2 separate regions of the Homo sapiens genome follow, and region 1 is linked to region 2. Evidence: fine-mapped expression QTL. A gene starts in region 2. The other region holds a variant in brackets. All regions are shown on one strand. Distances are from middle to middle. Region 1 overlaps SLC26A4 (solute carrier family 26 member 4). Region 2 holds the start of CBLL1-AS1 (CBLL1 antisense RNA 1).

What was found. PIP is the estimated chance that this variant, and not a neighbour inherited with it, causes the effect.
Region 1: its variant is the best candidate, but not a certain one, in a credible set for the expression of CBLL1-AS1 in tibial artery (GTEx, PIP 0.90).

Annotation. Positions count from the first base shown.
Region 1 is chr7:107,682,570-107,685,488 of GRCh38, forward strand. It overlaps SLC26A4 (solute carrier family 26 member 4), which reads left to right. Exons shown (of 21, transcript NM_000441.2): 7 at 633-785; 8 at 886-968. Among named protein-coding and RNA genes, the nearest start is that of SLC26A4-AS1, 22 kb to the left of the region's middle. The variant G/C (reference allele first, on the strand shown) is at 1,828.
Region 2 is chr7:107,743,011-107,745,929 of GRCh38, forward strand. CBLL1-AS1 (CBLL1 antisense RNA 1) reads right to left here and starts at 1,571. Exons shown (of 2, transcript NR_144537.1): 1 at 1,363-1,571; 2 at 1-393. It overlaps CBLL1 (Cbl proto-oncogene like 1), which reads left to right and starts at 1,132. Exons shown (of 6, transcript NM_024814.4): 1 at 1,132-1,166. The coding sequence starts at 1,154. RefSeq lists enhancers at 1-240, 241-759, 857-1,076, 1,427-1,606 and a silencer at 617-816.

The DNA.
Region 1 (2,919 bases), 60 kb before region 2:
TGTTATTATCTATATCATTCAGGTTTAGGAAAGAACTTTACCTAAAATACTGGCTAATTGTGCCCCAAAAAAAAGAAAGCTAGAAAGAAAGAACACACACACACACACATACACACATATACACACACAAAAAAAACAACCAACTGATCAACTGGGAGTTTCAGGTTTATCAGCCTTTAGTCTCAATGCTGTATCACTGTAGTAAAAATCAGGCTACTTGATAGCACCTAGAAACCCATTTTAAAATATAAACTTGTAAAGCATTTCTGTAAGTAAAAGTTAGTATGTTTATAATGACATTTTTTCTTTTAAGACATCTTTATTATTATCATAAAAAATACAGAGAAGCAAAAATAAGAATGTAGAAATCACCCAGTTTTTCCTTTCCAAGTAAACAATCATAAAAAACTTGGTGTATATATATATTGCAGCAATTGTATGTATGTAATGGTCTCTGTATCAACCAACACATTTTTATCATTTTACTGAAACTTTTGAGTGTTGTTTGATGCTGATATCATGGTTTTTCATGTGGGAAGATTCATATGAGAATTGATTGTGTGTGTGTGCGTGTGTGTGTGCTCGTGTGCGTGTAGCAGCAGGAAGTATATAAAATTATTTTCTTTTTATAGACGCTGGTTGAGATTTTTCAAAATATTGGTGATACCAATCTTGCTGATTTCACTGCTGGATTGCTCACCATTGTCGTCTGTATGGCAGTTAAGGAATTAAATGATCGGTTTAGACACAAAATCCCAGTCCCTATTCCTATAGAAGTAATTGTGGTAAGTAGAATATGTAGTTAGAAAGTTCAGCATTATTTGGTTGACAAACAAGGAATTATTAAAACCAATGGAGTTTTTAACATCTTTTGTTTTATTTCAGACGATAATTGCTACTGCCATTTCATATGGAGCCAACCTGGAAAAAAATTACAATGCTGGCATTGTTAAATCCATCCCAAGGGGGTGAGTGTGGTGTTCCTCTTAGTACTAATACATTAAGTCAGTAAGTCAGTCTTTTTTATTTAAATAAAACCTTTTATTACAAGCTTCATTTCACTGATACTCCTTCAATAGTCCTATTTGTGTGTGATCTGGAAGAAACAACCATAAGACAAACAGTATGTGTGTAGATAAACGTCAAGCCATTTGTTTAAAAGCAGCCCGTATATGCTCTTTTTTCTTCATTTTCTTAAAACATGGCAGAACATGTACGGTTAACACCAGAGTCCTGATTTAAACTTATACATAACATTATAATATAATATAAATAGAATCATTTCTCAGTAACATCTATTGCACTGTGAACAATCTGCTTAAGGAATCAGGGACGTCTGGCCTAAATTCTCTATCATTTAGTTTAATCAATTTTGGATAATAATTATATCCTCGTACCCATAAGTAAAATGCATTATCTTCAAGGGAAGTTTTAGAAACATTTGGTAGTTTGGTGAATTAGAAGAGTAAAAGATCAAGGTCCTTCATTCATCTCTGTCACCTTCCAGTTTTGTGACCTGAGGAGATTCTCCTATATAAGACAAGGATAATGAAAACAGCCGAAGCCTCAACTCAAGCTTATTATGAAACACCAGTGAGATCTCTCATGAAATGAAGAGTAGTCAAGACACCCTACACCATAATTTTCTCATATGGGGTTACAAAGGAGGCCTAGACGTTTATTATATTTGTAACATACACTCATAACATTTAAGACTAGACTTGCTGTTAATCAAGAAGTACTAGTTTTCCCTAAGACTGGAAGAGTTTGGTACCGGTGTTTCTACCAGGAAAGGGAGTGGAGGGGAGGGAAGGGCACGGAGCCACT[G/C]TTTGGTACCAGTGTTTGTTTTCCATGCTCTTAATAGAAACTTCCTCAGGCAAGCTTATTCCCAGAGCTTATTCTACAGGGAACTGCTGTATTCCCATTTGATGAATCTTATAATTTCCTCTAATATCTGTTCCAAACTATTTGAAAAAGCACAGCTGGCTACATGGGACTTAATTTGCATGCTATCCATTACAGTGTTTCTCAAACTTACCCTTTTGTAAGAATCACATGGGATCCTTTTTCACACAGATTCCTGGTTCCCACCCCAAACCTATTGAATCAGGCTTTCCAGAGGTGGGGCTCAGGAATTAATATTTTTCAAAAGTGCCTCAAGTGATTCTTGCCCTCAAGGAAACTGGAGAAACTCTTTAAGAGAGGATCAACAAATCTAATCTAACAACTAGATAATTTCATTAGTTAGAAACAATTACAGAAAAAGATACTTTACAGATCTCTTTTGTCAGGCTTCCTAGGATGTATCAAGTTATAGGTGGTCCACAGAGCAGGCCCTGTCCCATCCATCCGTGTTCCATTAGTTGGTTTAGGGAACTCATTTCTTCTGCCCTAAATTATCCCTCCAGGTCCTCTGCAGAGCTTTCCTGTGCTCTCCTCCTGAGAACAGATTTCTAGCCTCTCGCCCTTGAGTTTAATGAAGCTGAATCCTTTGACAGACCACCTGGTCAGCTTGGTCAGCTAATTTAACCTGCCTGGCCCCAGGGACTTTAAGCTACTCCATGAGGGCAGTGACCCCATTGGTGTTGTTCAGCTCTGTCCCAGAGCACAGAGCTCATCTCACAGTAAGCTCTCAGAAAACACTTGTTGAAGGAATAAAATACCCAAGCCTATGTCATTATAAACAAGCCACAACAAAGGCCTTGGTTATCTGATCTCACTTGGTAGCACAGAAGCAATTCTGATGATATTAACAAACCTGAAAAAGAAAGGGAGTGGAGAGATTGGAAAAAAGCAAGCAGAGTTTTAAAGTGGCCCTGAGGTGAGCACAGTGAAAGGAAGAGGGACAGAGAGATTGTGATATGCCCCCTTTTGATCTCCTCCCTGCTTCAATCCTCCATTAAGGCTGCTGCTCGTAGT
Region 2 (2,919 bases):
ACACAAATGAGCCAAGTCCGCAAGGTGGAGACTGCACTGAAGGTCCTAGGAATCGCCCCTTGGCACTTTCCTTTTGTGTTGGCTGAGGAAGATGAAAGCAGCAACAACCACAAACTCCTGGGACCAAGAACTGGAACTAGGTACTGCTTGTTGTGGTAACTCTCTTCCTCATTTTAGGCCTTTCCTTTTTAACCTCTCCTTCCGGCCAAGCCTTCGCGCTCTCTTCCCCTCCCTCGGTTTCTATCCGCTCCCGTTAGCTCCACTCCGCACATTCCTGCAAGGTGTCCCCGTTAAGAGGAGGCAGCTGCGCCGCACTGGCTCTCCACCCTCCATCCGGCCCTGGCGCCCAGTCGTCAGGTGTTCGAGAGGTTCGTAGCGTCACAAGCGCTCTCCCTAGAAAGTGAGTGGCAGTCAAGCATTATAAACGTGTTTCAACTGTAAAGAGACTTAAGAGATGGGAACCGGGGCATATACCAAGTTAGCTCTGCGTGGGTCTAGGTAGCTCGTCACGACAAAGCAAAATTTAGACAAGCGTTGAGACTTTCCTTCTAGCTCCGAGTTTCACAGCTCCGCCATCCCCTGAGCAACCTCCCACTGGAGGGCGCCTTCCGGAGCGCGCGTGTTTACACTTTTGCTACACCAGGCGGAGGAAACAAGCGCTCGCTGACCCCGGGGGATTCCAAACCGTTACTCCGCCCGCCGGGGTGGGGCCAGCGCAACGGCCGAGCCTGCGCAGCCAGCCGGCTCCGGGGGCCCCGCGCACTACAAGTCCCAGAAGGCAGCTCTCCGCGGGGCGGGCAGTCGCCTTATCTGCTTCTGGCTCATTTTTACCACTGCTCTCCCCTTCCCCGGTCCCCCTGGTGTCCTTTCCACAGTTAAAGGCTACTTTCTCTTGAAGCACATGAGGAGAAGCCTTAGCAACCTCAATACCGAAGTTCTTCGCGCGCTCGCTCTTTCTGCCTCCGCCCGAACTATGCCTGAGTCCCTCACAGGAGTTGGATAGTAGAGGCGAGAGAAGGAAGTCTTTGCAGGCCAAAATTGGGACAACCTGCTTGGACTTCCGCCTCCCGGCCTCCGGAAGGCAGTGCGCACGCGCTCGCTGCGACTCCGGCGCGGTTGACTTCCGCTCCCACTGTGCTCTGCGAGCCGAATCATGGATCACACTGGTAAGGAGGCGGAGGCAGTGGGGGTCCCGGTTCCAAGCCCCCTTGGCCGGCCTGGGGCTGGTCGCACAGCAGGCAAAAGGGATTATGCTCGCCCCACAACACTAGGGTGTGGCAGTGAGAAGAAATCTCACAGATGCCTTCCTGTGCCCGGCAGGGGCCTGCGGTTTCCTGGCCTACCGTCTGGTGTGGTACCTACCTCCTCCGTGCCGGCAACAACCGCTCCTACTCTGGTTCTGCTGAGCTCCGAGCCCGGACCAGTGGGCGATGTAGGCCTTCGGGAAGGGAGAGCCCCGGCTCTGTTTTATTTAGCCCAGCTGCTCTGGCCTACGTTATGGAGACTGGCGGGTAGATTGCGGTCTCCGAGTCGCGGAATCCTCTTTACGCTGGGAGTGGACGGGCGAGAATGGGTTGGAGACTTCCTGCTGTCTCAGTCAGCTTTGGGCGGGTGCTGCAGTGGTCACCCCCTGTCGTCTCTCCGATCCTTTATGGACTAGAGGGGTGAAAGAAGGGAGTCTGATAGAGTTTTTGGAATCAAACTCGGAGCAGTTTTTCTACCTAAACCAAAAGCATGCCCCGCGCTTCGGCTGAGGTCCTTACTCATCATTTGAGGGTATTTACAAAGAGGAGTTTAAAATCAAGGCATTCTCATACTTTTCTCCAAGTAAGAGTGGCTCCACCCTTTGTTATGTATTTTCTGGCTTTTGCTTCTTTGTGGTTCTTGGATATTGAATGAGTGCTCTTGGAGTTATGTGCCCCATACATTTATAGCGACCGTATCACAAATAGAGAAAAAAAGGCTTTTTCTTGAGTATTGAGTTGTCCTCACTCATCAGATATCTACTTGGTTATATAATTAGGTGTGTATGTTTATTTATGTAGGTGTGTATGTTTATTTATGCAAGATACATGCAGATATCTATAGGTCGGGAGATGGAAGATGGAATGGTAAACGAGACGGACCAGGTCCGTGATAGAACTTCTGTTTTATGGAGGAACACAGACAATACGTTCTTTTTTTTTAAATTTATTATTTTTTTAATGTTTGCGGATTATTTTGAAGAAAATAAACGAGTGCTGTGGAGAGATTCATAGGACGAAATTTCAGAGAGGGTTGTTAGGAATGGTCTTTGTGGAAGCTAAGATCTGATGGATGAGAAGAACCCAGCCCTGGGAAAAAAGCAAGAGGAAGAGCATTTCCAGCAAGTGCGAAGGCACTGAGGTAGGAAGATACAGTGAAGTCAGCTGCAGCCTCCTAATAGCCAGAGGGTAGGAGTCCTGAAGTGAGATTGGAAAGGAGGGCAGCAGGCACATCATTCAGGTCATTGAAAGCCGTGGTAAACGTTTGAATTTTAATTTAAGTGAATATGAAGCCATTGAACAGAAGTGGAGGAGGAACACAGTCTCTTAAAAAATACAATAGGCTGTTCTATGAAGAATGGTGTAAGAGAGGGAGGTAAGAATGATGGAAAATAGCTGATTGCAGTAGACGGGAAGGGAAGGTTGGTTTGGTGAAAATGAAGGAGAATGGGCAGCTTCAGTAAATACTCTGGTGGTGTTTGAAGGAATGTGAGAGAAAGGAGAAATGCCTAGGCTTTTGGTTTGAGCAACTAGGTAGGGTCCATTATTGAGCTGAGGAAAACTTGGGGCAGAAAACAATCTTTTTTTGTAGAGGTGAGACGGGAATTTGGGAACAAGTGTTTGGTCTTGGACTGCTAGTGTGAGATAACTACTGAGACACAGGAGAGATGCCAAG